4 separate regions of the Homo sapiens genome follow, and regions 1, 2 and 4 are each reported to be linked to region 3. The links are microRNA targets in miRTarBase. Many come from high-throughput screens and were not tested one by one. Region 3 holds a microRNA gene; each other region holds the end of a gene's coding sequence.

Region 1 (4,167 bases), not on the chromosome of region 3:
CATATATTGTTGGACTTTGGCGCTGTGCACCATTTTTGTTATTCAAAATAGCTCTGGGATCATAATTGTGTAGGTAAATCTTTATATCCATCCATGATTATTTCCTGAGAAAAAATTCCTAGAATTTGACACACTAGGTCAAAGGGCAAATTATGTTTACTTAAGAAATTAAATTAAAACAAAACAAAAAGAAGACAGCACTGCCACCTTGCATTTCAAACATATCACTGATGGCCCGTGGTGATGCACGGAGGTTTCCTGCAGTGCACACACACTGGGACGGCCACTAACACTTTCTAATGATTTGTTTCATGCCTTCACACCACCTCTGTCCTGCCATCTCTGTTTTAGATTGTGGCCAAGAAATACCGCAACTATGATATCCCGGCTGAGATGACAGGCCTGTGGCGGTACCTCAAGAACGCCTATGCCCGTGATGAGTTCACCAACACCTGTGCAGCTGACAGTGAGATCGAGTTGGCCTACGCTGATGTCGCCAAACGCCTCAGCCGATCCTGAGCACAGCCATTTTGCCCCATCCCCGCTGCAGAAGGACTCAACCACTCCCCTAAGACTCCAGCTTCATAGACTCCTCTGTATCACTGCCTTGAGGCGCACTTTTTATAATCAAGCCTCATCTTGCTGGTATCATGGGAACTCCAGCCTGCTATCTTTCATGAAGGTCAGCACCATCCCTGGCCTCCTCACATAGGAATCTAGCAGAAATGATAGACACAGTCCACCTTTCGGCCGGCCAGCCTGATCTGGGCTCAGCATGTTTGGGGTCAGTCAGTGTTGGAGAGCCCACATATGGGATTGCCACTAGCTTCTTCTGCCAATATCAAAATACCTTCTCAGATGCTTTAGAAACATGCAACACCAACTCCTTTTCTACCCTCCTCTCCGTCCATACCTACAAGGCCAAGGACAAACGCCATCTTCATCCTTCTTAGAAAGAGATCTATTACCCCATTAGGGGAGACAGAGAGAGTGAATGGAGGAGTACCGAGCTGGCTATGGACTTGGGTGTCTGGCAAACACAGCTTCAGTCTCACTACTTCTGACACTCTGGTTATTGGGCACTAAGGGCCAGACTGGAAAGTCACTTGAGACACATTCTCAGTTTGTTGCAGTGCCAGGAATGCTGCGCTGCTGCTGCTGCGCACCTGGCCCATGCTGTCCCTGGCTTCCATGCCGTCCAGGCCCTGCCAGAAAAGGAAATTGGCATGCAATTCTAAACTGCAGTGACTGGGATGGGAGGGGAGGGGAGCAGTGTTGATGCCAAAATACCCACGGGGTCTACCAGCCATGGGGTTTGCTTGCTTAGGAGTAGTTGTTTCAGAGGTGATTACAGGCCTGGGTTTGACTGTGCTTACCAATGAGTGGTTTTTGAGCTATGAGAAAGTGGATGGGAGTGGGAGGAGGAGAGATGGGTGAAGACAAAAGAGTTCTTTATGAGCCTCGATGTTCCCTGGTAAACTTTTAAAAAGGCCTTCTCTCATGATCTAAGTCTTGGACTGGTGGCATCATGTAACTGCTAACCTTACAGTAAAAACCCAAGAATGGGTCAAAAATGTCTTCCCAGTTTCTCCAAGCTGCTTCTGGAATGCAGGTCTGTCGGCTGGGTGCTCTCCAGCAGCTGCTCCTGCCTGATTCAACTGTAGCCTGTAATGGGTAAAAGCCACATTTAGGAGGTGGTCTGATCATAGAACACCTTAGGAAGAAAGTCCATGAGACTTTCTGACTAGGAAACCATGTGGTTTGAACTTGAAGAAAAATGTAGACCCATCTGGGTTAATTTTCCTACAATCTGACTCAACTGCCAGGTGAAAAAAAAAAGGAAAAATTTTTAAGCTAATATTTCACTCTTTTGTCATTCTCCTTAAGTTTCATCTCCTAAAAAGCTTACCCAGCCTGAGCTTGGGGACCTGTGCAGAGGAAACTAAGAAAAATGCACTCATCAACTCCTTCTCCCAGTGAACGCCCGGTGAGAAAATCCATTTGCCACAGGCCCTTACCTTCAACAATCCCCCTTCTATAGTGTTCGCTGGTAAAGGGTGAGGCTCCCAAGTGCTGGAAAGCCCCTGGACTTGGCTCATTTCTCAGCAAGGGCAGGATAGCACGGGTCCTTTCCATAGAAATATCAACAAATTCTAACCCAAGCAATCCCTGGACCTACCTGCCTCCAGGGATCTCTGAAGAAAAAAAGTAACCCATTGATCAAATCAGAGGAGAGGAAGCAGGAGGTCTCCTAGAGCCCATTGAGGAAGAGGAACTTTCTCAGTAGGACACTTTATAAGCCTGAGAAAGCTTTGAAAAGGCGGAATGAGTTGATTCATTTCCACCTCAAAAGGAACCTTTCCAGGTCCCCCTGGAAATTGTGCCCTGGAGATGTTTAACAAGGAGAACTGGTGAGGAAAGAGTCCTTTTTTACTGTAGGGAAAAGCCCCAAACTGGCCTCCTGGGGGATGAGGGCTGAAATGATCCCGAAGGCCTTTTAATTAGTGTGAAATCCTGCTGTACTCAGAAATCCTTCCCCGAATTTACAGCACAGGCAGGATGACCTAAGAGGCAGTTTACTTCCCTGAGACCCACAGTTGGGCTGTTCTGGAAACACATCTGTGAATCATAGCCAATTGCCACAGAGAAAACAGAACCAAGCCTCCGGTGAGGCCACTCCACCCCAGAGAAGTCTGCAGAATTCCAAGGACTCGGATTGGATGTTCAGAATTCAGCAACTGGAAAGTCCTTAAAAACAAACAGGCCAAACCAAATCAATATTGCTGTTTCTAGATGTCCCTTCTGTGGTTGAGCTAGTTTTACAGAGATAAATATATTAAGACAAGGAGGTGGGGGTGTTATATGATCAATGATAGCCATTTGAAAGAGAGGGAGGAGTACAGAAGGAAGGCACTTCTGGGTACTTAATTCAGAAATTTCTTTATATTTCAGCACTGGATTATCATATAATGCAAGTGACTATGGACTAAGAGTTAGTTATGGTGTCTTATGACTAGATTTATTATGGTATATTAAAGTAACAATAATATTAATATTACCTTCCTTTTTTTTTTTGTTTCAAAAGAGATCTTTCTCCAGATGCTTCAGCCTGTCTGGCCTTCTTATCATATGTGCAGCACATCATGTCTCAGCAACAGTGTGGTGAGGTCCTTAGGTGTCCCAAGAACAACTCAGGGAGCACGGGAGGGTCTGCAGTTGGGACCCCACAACTATACAGCTATAGGGTAGGAGGCTTCCTTTTCATTGGTCCTGAATGAATACAAATCGCTCAGAAAGCATTTTGGTGGCACAGAAAGGGGATGTATTTGTGTTGAGATCTTATTTTATTTTGTATTTATTTATCTTCTTTGACTTGCACAGCACTATTGGGGGTGGGGGAAGCAGGGTAGTGGGAGACGAAGGCAGAAGCAAGAGTCAAACTCAGAATGACTGAGTTGAATTCACTGTCTAGTCAGCAATGCCTGCTTCTGAGTTTGGCCCAGAGAGAAGGTATTGAGTAAGATTTTAATAACTGTAAAAAGTAAGCTGGATAAGTAAAATCATGATGGATCCAAAGCACAGTTTCTTCATCTCCTGATAAAGAAAGTCAAATGCTTGATAAATTCAGAGTCACAGATGTGAGCATAGCTATATTCTTTTAAACGAGAGGTAGAGTGACCTAGCACTAAGCAAATGAGCTGAAATGTCGGAAACAGAGTCCATCAGCTTATTTGGCCACACGATCCCAAACTAGTTTTATCTTGGGAAATGGCCCTGTCCTCAGCATTCCCTTCTTGTGCTGGTGGGGCCAGTGAAGTCTTGATCTTATCAGAAAAAGGCCACACCAAGTGCGAGTTTTCCCAGGCTGACTTTCCAGGCCCTTATCAAATGAAACAACAGAAGCTCTTCACAGTTCTGTGCCCCATGGCCACTCCACAGACAGACAATACCAAGCATCTTAGAACTGTCATAAGATAGGTCATGCCTGAAATAGATCTTGACCATATGAGAGTCCCAGAAATCAGCAAGGCCTGGACAAATAGAACTAAGAGAGAGGCAGAGGCAGGAAGCTGCGGGTCTATCTTGTAAAGAGTTTAGCATCACTGTGAGAGTGTGTGTCTAAAATTAAATTAAACTAGAAGCAGCAGGTGAGTATTTGGTAAGTAC
Region 2 (4,167 bases), not on the chromosome of region 3:
GGACTTTGAATAGAGATTTCACCTTTTGTTATTGCGGAAGAGGAGAGGGATTGCAGAGGATAGGGTTCTTAATGGTTTTTGTTTTACTTATAGAATGTGCTGACATAGAATTTTGAATTCCACTTTGACACATAGGAGGCAAGGAGAAAGTTTTGTTTTTAACATTTTCTTCAGAAGTAGCCATTCAGTGGTACTGCTGGCATTGGTGAAGCCTGTGGGGGAGCCTGAACTTTGCTCCATTTTACAGGTTTATGTGGAACATAGCACTCTGACCAGGATTTGTAATGGTGACTAAAAACTTCTCATTATATCAGATAAAAACTTCAAATTTCAAATCAAGACTGTTTATTATGACAGTAACTAGTTAATCGATAGACAACAAAGTGAAGTAGAAAATTCATTAGCCCCAAAGCAAAAGTCCTGGGTTCTATGACAGGCTTTGTGGAACCTTGGACAAGTCTCGTAACTTTAGTTCCCTACAAAATGAGGGTGTTGCATTGACCCTCATCCTCTAGTTTCTGAAATACTATTGACTCTGAATATTTCTAATTATTTTTCTTTATTGTAGGATTTTAATATAATTGAGGAAGCTCTTATCCGAAGAGTCTTAGACCGGTCACTTCTTGAATATGTGAATCACTCGAACACCACATAATTTTATTAAAACGAAGGGAAAAGGGACCACTGAATTGCACCATTTAAGATGCTGCTTGAACAAATGGGAGGGAAGTTGTCAATGATTGATGGGCAAAAATGTACAACACAGTTATGTGTTTGTCCATGTTTATTGTTATAGTGCATTTAAAAACTGCTTTAATTTTAATGGTTTAAATCTGTTTTACATCCTTGAGATTCTTACACATCTAACAACAAAAAAAATTATCTACATCAGTCATTGTTACATGGAAAAGACAGGTGGTAGGCAAGTAGGTGGAGGATCTCGGTTTGCAAATTAGATAATACTCTGTGTATAATGCTACATATCAATAACTACCATCATGGTTAGGCACGATAACTAATCTTTGTTCTGTGTAAAAAAATATGGAGAGTGAAACAAAGTGCAGACATTCAAAGAAATAAGAAATCTGCTCCAATGCTCTTGTTCTAATCTCTAATAGGTTAACGTTAATAATCTTGTATGGGAGTTGGAAAGGAAAATTTTGGAAGTCAAGAAAGTCCATTTAGGCCGGACGCGGTGGCTTACGCTTGTAATCCCAGCACTTTGGGAGGCTGAAGCAGGCGGATCACAAGGTCAGGAGTTCGAGACCAGCCTGGCCAACACTGGTCTCTGTGAAACTCCGTCTCTACTAAAAATACAAAAATTAGCTGGACGTGTTGGCGGGCATCTGTAATACCAGCTACTTGGGAGGCTGAGGCAGAAGAATCACTTGAACCCGGGAGGCAGAGGTTACAGTGAGCTGAGATCGCACCAGTACACTCCAGCCTGGGTAACAGAGCTAGACTCCATCTCAAAAAAAAAAAAAAAAAAAATCCATTTAACCAAATTGTCTTACATAATACTGTAACAAAACAAATTTTGTGTTAGAAAAGTATACTTAATTCTTTGACTTTTTATAACTGCATACATAAGAATTCAATATTTTTCAAATATTTATAGCTTATTTAGAAATATTTCTATAATATAAGCAATTTCTTAAAAACCATCAGATGATACTTACAGTATAAGTATTCACATCCAGACTTTTTAGTAGAAAACCCTAAGGGCTTTGATATCTTTTTTGATTGTAACATTTTAAAAATTATGAAATAAAAGTACTGAAAACCAGACACAAAATTTATAGCTGAATGCCTTATTATAAGGAAATACTCTTTTAGGACTCAGCCAGTCACCCCACGTGTCCTTTTTGTGTCCTGTCACAATTACAACCCCACAAAAGTAACTGCTAGACTGATTTAAATGGTAATCACTTTGTTGCATTTGATTACTGCTGCCACACCTAAATGCATATATCTATATTTTAATATTATCAATTTAAAGTTGTTATTAAATGTATATTTTATTTTACATCTCTTTTTTAATCTAGAAGTTCCTCCTTCTTTCCAGTTCCTTAAAATTTACCTGGTGAAGAACCTGATCCTAGGACCTATAGAGTTTCCCATACTTTGTATTTTGCTGATTGCACACTCATGGCACGGTTCAGCACATTGCCCTGTCCTCTCGATATTAGCACACAGTGCAGGTTCAGGCACATTGAATTTGAGAAGACTTAGGTTCAGTCCTTTGGCAAGACTGTAAATCACGGTGTCTTTCTTTCCTTCCTCCTTCTTCTCTCTCTCTCTCTCTCTCTCTTTCCTTTTCTTTCTCTTTTTTTCAGAGTTGCACTCTGTTGCCCAGGCTGGAGTACAGTGGCACGATCTCGACTCACTGCAACCTCCATCTCCCGGGTTCAAGCAGTTCTCCTGTTTCAGCCTCCCAAGTAGCTGGGACTACAGGTGCACGCCACCATGCCCGGCTAATTTTTGTATTTTTAGTAGAGGGGTTTCACCATAATGGTCAGGCTGGTCTTGAACTCCTGAACTCAAGTGATCCACCAGCCTTGGCCTCCCAAAATGCTGGGATTACAGGCATGAGCCACCATGCCCAGCTAATTTTTGTATTTTTAGTAGAGACAGGGTTTCACCATAATAGCCAGGCTGGTCTCAAACTCCTTACCTTGTGATCCGCCCACCTCAGCCTTCCAAAGTGCTGGGATTATAGGCGTGAGCCACTGTGCCCGGCCTACAGGGTTTTTATCTAACCTTTCTGTTACAACTGTACCTCTCCTTCTGTACTGAAAGTCCTGGTTTTCAAGAACACAGGGCACGATAGAATTAGAACATCCCACAATTACTCATTTCTTTTATTTATCTTACACTTACAGCTGTCTCAGAATAACAATAGAAATACAACCACAAATAATATGGCAATTGAAACAATTAAAAAGTTTTCATTTGCTTTTCTCATTCTTTCCCAATTTTTTTTTTTTTTTGAGATGGAGTCTCGCGCTCTTGTTGCCCAGGCTGGAGTGCAATGGCACGATCTCGGCTCACTGCAACCTCTGCCTCCTGGATTCAAGCAATTCTCCTGCCTCAGCTTCCCGAGTAGCTGGGATTATAGGCATGCGCCACCACGCCCTGCTAATTTTGTATTTTTAGTAGAGTCAGGATTTCTCCACATTGGTCAGGCTGGCCTCAAACTCTCGACCTCAGGTGATCCGCCTGCCTCGGCCTCCCAAAGTGCTGGGATTACAGGTGTGAGCCACTGCGCCCGACATCCCAATTTTTAAAATAGTTATACTATGTCAACATTTTCAGAACATACTGGTATAGCATACTGTACTTTCTTCCTTTTATCCCCCATTTATTCTTAGTTCTTCAACTATATATTTAACACTTGCCCCCAGTTTTGTTTTGTTTTGTTTTGAGGAGGAATCTTGCTCTGTTGCCCAGGCTGGAGTGCAGTGGTGTGATCTTGGCTCACTGCAACCTCCGCCTCCCGGGTTCAAGTGATTCTCCTGCCTCAGCCTCTCGAGTAGCTGGGATTACAAGTGGGCACCACCACACCCGGCTAATTGTTGTATTTTTAGTAGAGATGGGTTTTGCCATGTTGGCCAGGCTGGTTTTGAACTCCTGACCTCAAGTGATCCACCTGTGTTGGCCTCCTAAAGTACTGGGATTACAGGTGTGTGCCACCGCGCCAGGCAATTGCCCCCAGTTTTTATTTGATGGCTCTGACTGTTTCTCATATCTGACTCTTTAATTATGAATCCAGGGCATAGATTAGTATCTCCATCTTGTAAGGATGCAAAGAAGCCATGAAAATAAGTAATATCAACTCCTGAGGATAAAACGTTACTTGACTAGAGTTAGCTTTTTAATTGTAATCATTTATAAACTTCTTTGTTCCTTACATATAAGCATAGTCATAACCATGGTACCCAAAATTTTCTATAAGTTATTGTAACTCCTTAAAGGTCTTGCTACAGTTCTTTTATCCAGTACAAATAATTGGGAAAATGTAAAGCTGAATGAAATCTAGTGAGCCTCATATCCTCCCTTTTAGATATTGATTTTAAGTTTGCTTTTCACAGCTGCTAAAAAGTAACAACTGATTTTTAGTTCCACAACCTCTCTTTCTTCAATTTAGATGGATCATACAATAAAGCA
Region 3 (4,167 bases):
TGATTTGGGATATATTGTGAGGGCTTCAGGAGATAATATAGGTAAAGGATCTGGCAGGGTGCCTGGCACATGGTAGGTGCTTAGTCAATGTTACCTCTCCAGTTGGAATCTTCCTGTTCTCTTCCCAGTATCTGTGCTTTTAGGGACAGCATAGTCTTTCTGGATGACACAGGCCAATGGCATGGGACTCCTTGGGGGATTGGGTTTAGGACAGCCTCCCAGCCTTCTCCTTTTAACTTAAGCTTTGGGATTGGGTCCGGCATCCTTGGAAGGCTCACCAGTTGGTCTACTTTAGAAGACAGGATGCAAAGAATTCCCTCTGATTCAAATGGCCCAGCTGAGCATACTTTCAGTTTAAAAATAAGTCGGCCTATCAGAAGGCTGTTTTAAAATGTAGAGGTGACAAGCAAATGCCTGCCTTACCTTTGTACAAAGAGGAGTGATTAGAAGAGCCAAAATAGAAGCCCAGAGAGGCTCCTGGGCCACAGTCCCTGCCCCAGGCCCAGAACCAGCCTTGGGTCAGACCCTCCCTCCCTCTGTTCTACCAGGGAGCCAAGGTTGCTGTAAGGAAAACAAGAGGAGTGTGGTGTTTTGTAACTATTTTTATACCTACCTCAGACTTGATGTTAGTGCTTCTGAATTATTTAACATTTTTCTTTCTCAGCTGGCCTCTCCAGCGAGTTTCTCTCTTGGGGTGGAGGGAGTTGTTTTTTAGGCACTCATGGAGGCAGACAAACATTGACTGCAGGGCCTCTGCTTTTTTTGGGGAATGACATTCTTAGGTATCCTATTATGAATTAGGGGCCCCATATTAAACATAGGTGACAGGTATTATAGATGACAGGTATCTAGTCTCCATGTTACAAAAAGAGATGGTAAGTAAATTGCCCAAGACCACACAGCAGGAAGTGAAGGAATCAGGATTCAAACTCTGGTCTTTCTTACTGTAGAGCTGGTGCTGCTTCTACTGAGCTGGACTGCTGCTGCTCTGTCCTTTACTCTGTGTGTGTGTGTGTGTGTGTGTGTGTGTGTGTGTAAGAACCATGTGGGTGATTTAATATGGTACTCCTTAAGCTAACAGGCCCCTGTCACCATTAGCTTAAGGAGTACCAGATCAAATCACCCACAAACACTGTGGAGGTGAACAGAGTTGAGAAGATGAGCCTCAGAAGGTTGAGCACTGAGAAGCAGGGATGTGGTTCCCTTGGTTATTGCATCCTGGGGGAATGGGAAGATTGTTGCAGCCCTAGCAGGAGGTCCCTTCATTGCACTTCACAGGCGCCACGTGTGGGGTGTGCGTTAAGAGCCCTTCCCTCACAGTCTAGCCAGCCTCTTGAAAGGGGTATCTGCACCTTGGGCCTCATTGAAGGGGGTGATGATTGGCAGCTCTAAACCACCCCGACAACAGGAGGGAATGAACTGGACTCTTATCTGCTGCCTCTCATAATTAAAGTCCATCATAGACTTTTAATGGGCATTTTGAAATAGACATCCTGGTTTGAAAGGAATCCTACTGTAGATCGAGATCAGCCTCCCTGCAGAAGCACTGTCTTGCTGATAACTGTTTTTTTTTTTTTTTAATTTCAGAGCCAGGGAAGATTACACATTTTCCTTGTTCCGTTCCTTTAGCTCCTATTTAATTATTGGTGACCTCGAGATGACTCTCTTTCAAGCATTTTAAACTCCTCATTCTACCTTGTGTGAAAACCCCGTTAGAATTATAATATGAACTCTCTCTGGGAGATAGCCCTCTGCAAATTAGCTAGGAACACTTATTTCAAAAGTGCCCATCGTTATAGTTTCAATAAAAATCACTGGGGTAAAGCAGTTGTTAGTAATGTTAATAACAGCTGTATTTTGATAGGAATGCACTTTATGACTATATCAAGCGATATCACATTCTGTTAAATAAAGTAATATTTGACACAGGTAAATTCCTTGATATTAAATTTCAGATAGCTGTATGAAATACTAGGTTCTCCTTCACATACATATGGATGAAAGTGGCCCTACCTTTTTTTTGAGGGGGGGTGACTTTATTTATGAAAACATATAGACAAGGTAATGGAATGATATTCCAAGATAGCCTCTTATGTGAAATAATTTGATTTAAAGCTTTATAAGCATTGCAAAAATTGACCAGTGTGCTTTCGAATGCCTCTACTTGTGATTTTGCAAAGAGAAAAGCAAAGGGAGAGTAGGGAGAGTCACGTTTAAAAAATAGTTTACACATTTAAAAAATACTCCCTACCAGATACCTTTGTGCACTCCTCGACTCATCTAATGCACACACAAGCACTCTAGAAGCCTGGTTTTCACTTACAGCAAAGCTAAGTGAAAGCTTTGGAAGGTTTGGAAAGCTTTGGAAACTTCTGGAAGTTGAAGTATCATCCCTGAGGCTACACTGCTGGTGGAATTAGCATTGAACCTGGGTTTATCTGACTCTGGAGTGACTGCTCCTACCTCTGTCCCATCCCAGCTCCAGGGACTAGGTTTCAAATATTTTTTCCGTATTGTGTGGATGTGTGAGCATGTGGAGGGGTAATAGTTTTTTCTTTTTTCCTTTTCACCATAGGAGCAAATAACCATCCCCCACCCCCCAAAAAAAAACTGGTTTGTGTCCAAATAAGTTTGATAAATGCCAAATTAGAGAGGTTAATGTATTTTCATGCTGCAGAAAGTCTCAGAGTCTTCACTATGCTTATGCGAATCTCCAAGAGAGGCATAAATAGCACATAAGAGTTCCCAAACTTCTAATATGAGTTTTCTTTTTTCTAAAGCAAAACCATTTTTAGCACTCTCACAAGAGTAGGGTTTCTTCAGAAGCTCTTTGGGAAGTGCTAACTTTGTGGATTTCTGAATCTGTAGGGTTCTGATTATGGTTCCTGTCTTAGTGATATGGTCCAAGCAGGAAGCTTGGAGAGTCCTGCAGGGGCTGAGTGTTTCCCTCTTGGGAGGCTGCAAGCTGCCTCTCTTTCTGACATCTTAGTAGTTCAGATAAATGAAATGCGTTTTTGTTCTAACCCTTCCCAACCTATTTTATGGAAAACATCAAAGTATTTAAATACAAAGAGTAAGGATTTAACATGTTAAAAAAATGTATTTCAAATGATCAGGAGGGAGAAAACCTTTACCATAGATTGGGAAGGATTTGCATCCTTGAAGGAGCTAAAAGACAAAGATAAGCTTTTAAAATACATATATGGAACAAAGAGAACACAGTGGGTTGGATTCAAAATATTTAAATCTGTCTTATTCCATTAAGGGAACTTTAAAATAAATGGTTTCTCATTCATTCATTCTCTCTCTCACTCACACACACATGCACATACACATAAAATATCACATAGGAAGTCTCATACTCAAACTCCCTCCCCGCACCCACCTTGTATCTTGAAGGAACTAAGGAATAATTTGGCTCACCTAGGTAGCTGGGGAAACTGAAGGCCCAGAGAAGGGAAGGAGTTTGTGCCAACCCACGAAGCCAGTTCATGGGACGTCAGGCCAAGGAGTGGAGATGTGGATGATGTCTGACATGCTTTGCACCCCTACTGTGTAGCAGACCTAATCTCTTTACCTCCTTACAACCAACCAGGTTATGGGTGTTATCTTCATTAAAGCTGAGGAAATGAAACTAGGAAATGTCAAGCAACGTGACCCATGGCTGGTAACTGGCCTCATAGTGGGATTTGAGCCCATACAAAGTACATATCACACTGTCAAGTCCAGAATGTGAGTTTCCTTTTTGCCAATCTAATTTAACCATCTCATCCACTATCCATCCCTGACTTACTAGACAGAGCAAGGTAGCCACCCAGTTACCTTCTGATGAGTCAGGAGGGAACACATCCATCCCCGTGCCGTGGGTGCTAAGGGTGCCATTGGGAACATGGAGGAAGGGAGCTGACCTCTTACCTGTGGGTGTGAACAGCTCGACTGCCCTGTTCCCAAGTGCTCTGGTGGTTTATAAGCAGTGAGGTGAGTCACAAAGCAGACAAAGGCCACTGACTCAGCGGGTAGAGGGAGGTGCCCTCAGTTCTTGATTCAACATTGCCATGACTTGCTGGGAGTGGTTTTTGATCCTTCCATGTGTTTTTGAAAAGCCAGGTAGGCTTTTCATCTCCTTCACCACTTTAGATGCGAGTTTGTCCTGGAGGCAGGGAAATG
Region 4 (4,167 bases), not on the chromosome of region 3:
CTTTGACCATATTTGTACTTTCGAAGTTAAGCTGAATTTATTTCAAAGACATATTGAGGAAAAAAATCTAACAGACTTTCCTGCCCTCAGAGAAGTTGTTGATGAGCTAAAACAGCAAAATAAGGAAGATGAAAAAATATTTGATCCTGATAGGTATCAAATGGTGATCTGTCGTCTCCAAAAAGAATTTGAGAGACATTTTAAGGACCTCAGGTTCATTAAAAAGGACTTAGAACTTTTTTCAAATCCATTTAACTTTAAACCTGAATATGCACCTATTTCAGTGAGGGTGGAGCTAACAAAACTTCAGGCAAACACTAATCTTTGGAATGAATACAGAATCAAAGACTTGGGGCAGTTTTATGCTGGATTGTCTGCTGAATCCTACCCAATTATCAAAGGGGTTGCCTGTAAGGTGGCATCCTTGTTTGATAGTAACCAAATCTGTGAAAAGGCTTTTTCATATTTGACTCGAAACCAACACACTTTGAGTCAGCCATTAACAGATGAGCATCTCCAAGCCCTGTTTCGGGTTGCCACAACTGAAATGGAGCCCGGTTGGGATGACCTTGTGAGAGAAAGAAATGAATCTAATCCATAAGGCTTTGTAGTACAAGATTGAAAAACTCAACAAGAATTTAATTCTAAAAGCAAAAATTGGTTTGAGTTTTCAAGTTTACTAATTTGGATTGTGAGAAAGTACCAAGTACCAGCCGTCCAAACTGATCACAATTAAAATTCTGACAGTTGCCTTTTTTTTCATCTCAAATGGCAGCATGGGACTGAAACATGAGAATGCCACCTTTTTTAAAACTTAGTTTAGTGACAAAGTCATTGTCTTTTATGATATAGTTAATTTTAAAGAGATTTAGTATTAATGTGAGTTGAATTTGCAGTCTGTTTTTTAGGTGTTCTGAAGATAAATGCCAAAAATTTCAGCTCTTATTTTAATGGAGTGTTAAAATTCTGATTCATATAGTCTTAAATTATCAACTCCTTAAATGTGCTTTTGAACCAATTTGCAGAAGCTCACATAGCAAGTTCATAAGTTTCCAAAAAGGAAGCCCATACATAACAGTGGAGGTGTTTTGTCTAACCATCAAAATGTTTGAGACTTTTTTTTAAACATTTCTGAGTTCGAAGGTAATACTGACAGATTTCTTCCCTCTTCCCTCCCCATCACCCACCTCAGTGATAACACATTACTGATAGAGGAAGTCATTAGAATCATTTTTAAGTTTCAGATATAGGAGACTTCATGCAATTTGGAGATAAGACTAATTATTGGGGGTTTTCCTTGGATTTTTTTTTTAATAACTGGGGGCTATTTTATCAGCTTGCCTATTAAAGGACTATGGTAAGTATAGAATCTTAATGGTTGCCAGTTAGTAATTCTTTTTTTTTTTTTTTTTACTGTAGACACAAGTTTGGCCCTATCAAAAACGATGAGGAAAAAAGATTGCACTCCAGGATTAGGAGGTGTGAGATATTTTAGCTTTTTTGTCTTATCTGCGTGGGTATTGCTGCTTTATTTTAAAAAATCCTGCCTAAAGTAAACACTTTGTTTTAAAATGATACAGTATCAGATTTTGTTAGATGCTAGAAATGGATTTATTCTAAAATTTGGAACTGTCGTACACATTCTATATGTAAGATAGCACACAAGTAGAAATATTTAAAAGCAGTCTTATTCACAGATTGCAGTAATTCTGTATTTCTACTAAGATAATCTGCTTTGTGCCAAAACAGTAATTTCCAAACTTCTGTTCACCATGAAAAGGCAATCTTAAAGTTCATTATGTAAAACTAATTATAAACAGGACCCAATTTATATTCATAGATCCTCTCAAGTATTATACAATTTAAAAACTCTTGTTCCAAAGTCCTGTCTTAACTATTGAAACACCTTAATCTGTGGTTACTAATCCAGCAAATTCAAGGAACCAGGCTATGACTAAGAATTTAGGTGGAATTGATGTCTGGGCAATTAAAATAAATGGCATAAGAGCTTAAAAACCAAAGTTGTGCCAGTGGCTTTCAACTAGAGGCAGTAACCTGTCATTCCAGAGGATGCTGAGAAATGTGTAGGGGCACTTTTTTGGTTGTCATATTTACTAGGGGCTTCTGTTGGCATTTAAGCCTAAAGACACTCACCCCTGCAGTGCATGGGACAGCCTGGCACAATGAAGAATTAGCCCTCCCAAAATGTAGATTATTTTATTTCAAGGGATAGGGCAGATTACCATTAGAAGCAAAATTAAAAGTACAAGCTGGGCAAACTGACAGAATACTAGATAGGAGAGACTAATTCCAACCTTCTAAATTTGGCTAGTAAAGTGCAATAAAGGCATTGATAAGTTCTGTTAGCTCACCATAGCACTTGTAAATCAGGAATTAATAATTGAATCAGATTTAAGGGCTCTGTCCTGTTATACATATTTAAGGCAGAAAAAAAGTTACATGTCGATTAGGTACTTATCAAGAATGGTCAAGCTGAGATTTTGGTTAATAGAGTAAGCTTACATATCTAGAGAAACAACATAGTGGAAAACCGAAAAAAAAAAACAGAAAAATCTACCGGTAATTTCCCAATAGCTTTGAATATTCACAGCAGAGCTTTATTACTTGAGAGAAAGACTGGAAGACCTGAAAGCCACTTCTGCTTTCTAACCCCAGTTCCTTAAATATTGAAATCTTGTACATTTTGTGAAATTCCAGTATGTTTTGCTTAAGGTGTTAATAAAATTAGTTTGCATCATGTAGTCATTGAGTGAGGGGGAGATATAAGCCAAGGATTTTAAATTGACCCTTAGCTATAGAGAATTTGCTATAAGCTAGTCTTGTTTGTAAAAAAAAAAAAAAAAAAAGAAAAAGAAAAAAGTGTATTTTACTGTTTTCTGTATTAAGTAATTCTGTAACTGCATGGCAGTCTTTTTTTTTTTAAATAAATATAGTTGTTACTGGTCCTGTTGTAGCAGTGAATATAGTTAAAATACGTACATTAAAAAAAAAATTATTAGGTCCTTACCAGTTACTGTCCTATAGCTCATTCCTACTAGTTTTCTTGACAGATTTGTATTCCCAGTGTCCCGTATTGCCACTCAAATTGCTCTACTATGCTAAGTCCTTGTTAATAGTCTTACCCTCCTTGAAACACTTGAACACTTGATGACTTTAGCTTTGAGGAGATACCATCTCCAGGTGTGCTTTCTTAGTCTTTGCAGGCACCTCTTCCCTTCAATATCTGTTCTTCGTATTTTTAAAAAAATTTGTTTTAGACTGCCTTGTTCTGTGTCAGCTCGCTAGCTGATCTCATTTCCTTCCATGGTTTCCTTACCATTTATATGCAAATGACTGTCAGATTCATATCTCCTTTCTAGATCTTCCCTAATTGATGTATCTAATTGCTAACAAATGCTCTTTGCTGTCTCAGGCACTACATGTCATTGATCTTGCCCCCAATCCTGCTCCTCCTCTCATGTTTCCTCTTTGACTAAATGGCATTACCACTACCAACCATTCATTTGTCCTTTTTACCAATTCTCCAATGCTGCCATTTTAATTCAGGCCATCAACCTACCTAAATTATAGCAACAGCCTCCTTATTAGTCTCCCTGTTTTTTATTTTTATTCCTTTCTACACTACAACCAAATTGCTCCAAAAGACTTACTGATCATGTCACTGCATTGCTTTCACCATTGCTCTTAGGGTACAATACAAATTTATCTTCATCTTTAAGGTCTCAGTATGCCACTTCATCTAGGAAACCTTCATTGATGCCCTCTAGATTAGGTGCCCTTACTATCCATTCCCTATACACCCTGTTCTTTCCCAGACATACACTTGGCACACTTTATTGTTACTGCTTATTGATCACTGCTAGACTGTAAGCTTTGTAAGGGCAGGGACCATATAAGCCTTGTTCACTGTTATATCTCTAGTGCTTAGCACAATGCCTGGCATTTCAATAAATGTTTGGACAAACGAATATTTGTGTAGTGTTTTACAATTTTTGAAGCTCTTTCACAGTCTTATTTGACCTTCACAGTCATTCTGCCTTAGACTGTCCATTGGGTAACTTTTATCCACATATTACTAATTGAAAAATGAAGACAAGTTCTTTGTAACTAGGGACCTCGTTGTATTCTCAGAATTTAGTGTAGTGC

Evidence for each region. Region 3 holds the annotated microRNA hsa-miR-5579-3p (UUAGCUUAAGGAGUACCAGAUC, at 1,095-1,116, shown strand). A microRNA usually pairs through its seed, bases 2 to 8, with sites in the 3' UTR of a target mRNA and lowers its output. Matches are read on the target gene's strand: a 7mer-m8 pairs with bases 2 to 8, a 7mer-A1 pairs with bases 2 to 7 and ends in A, and an 8mer does both.
Region 1: miRTarBase lists CLIC5 as a target of hsa-miR-5579-3p. Seed matches in the 3' UTR shown: 8mer at 1,851-1,858.
Region 2: the mRNA of RNF125 is a reported target of hsa-miR-5579-3p. The part of its 3' UTR that is shown has no 7-base or 8-base seed match.
Region 4: the mRNA of EPM2AIP1 is a reported target of hsa-miR-5579-3p. Seed matches in the 3' UTR shown: 7mer-m8 at 2,831-2,837.

Annotation. Positions count from the first base shown.
Region 1 is chr6:45,899,440-45,903,606 of GRCh38, reverse strand. It overlaps CLIC5 (chloride intracellular channel 5), which reads left to right. Exons shown (of 6, transcript NM_016929.5): 6 at 352-4,167. The coding sequence ends at 519. Among named protein-coding and RNA genes, the nearest start is that of CLIC5, 110 kb to the left of the region's middle. RefSeq lists enhancers at 842-1,686, 1,390-2,589, 1,991-2,679.
Region 2 is chr18:32,067,730-32,071,896 of GRCh38, forward strand. It overlaps RNF125 (ring finger protein 125), which reads left to right. Exons shown (of 6, transcript NM_017831.4): 6 at 569-4,167. The coding sequence ends at 655. Among named protein-coding and RNA genes, the nearest start is that of RNF138, 22 kb to the right of the region's middle.
Region 3 is chr11:79,419,118-79,423,284 of GRCh38, reverse strand. It overlaps MIR5579 (microRNA 5579), which reads left to right and starts at 1,059; the gene lies at 1,059-1,116. The region is part of intron 1 of TENM4 (teneurin transmembrane protein 4); the gene reads left to right. RefSeq lists an enhancer at 3,542-4,167.
Region 4 is chr3:36,987,688-36,991,854 of GRCh38, reverse strand. EPM2AIP1 (EPM2A interacting protein 1) reads left to right here. Exons shown (of 1, transcript NM_014805.4): 1 at 1-4,167. The coding sequence ends at 601. Among named protein-coding and RNA genes, the nearest start is that of EPM2AIP1, 3.4 kb to the left of the region's middle. RefSeq lists a silencer at 560-609.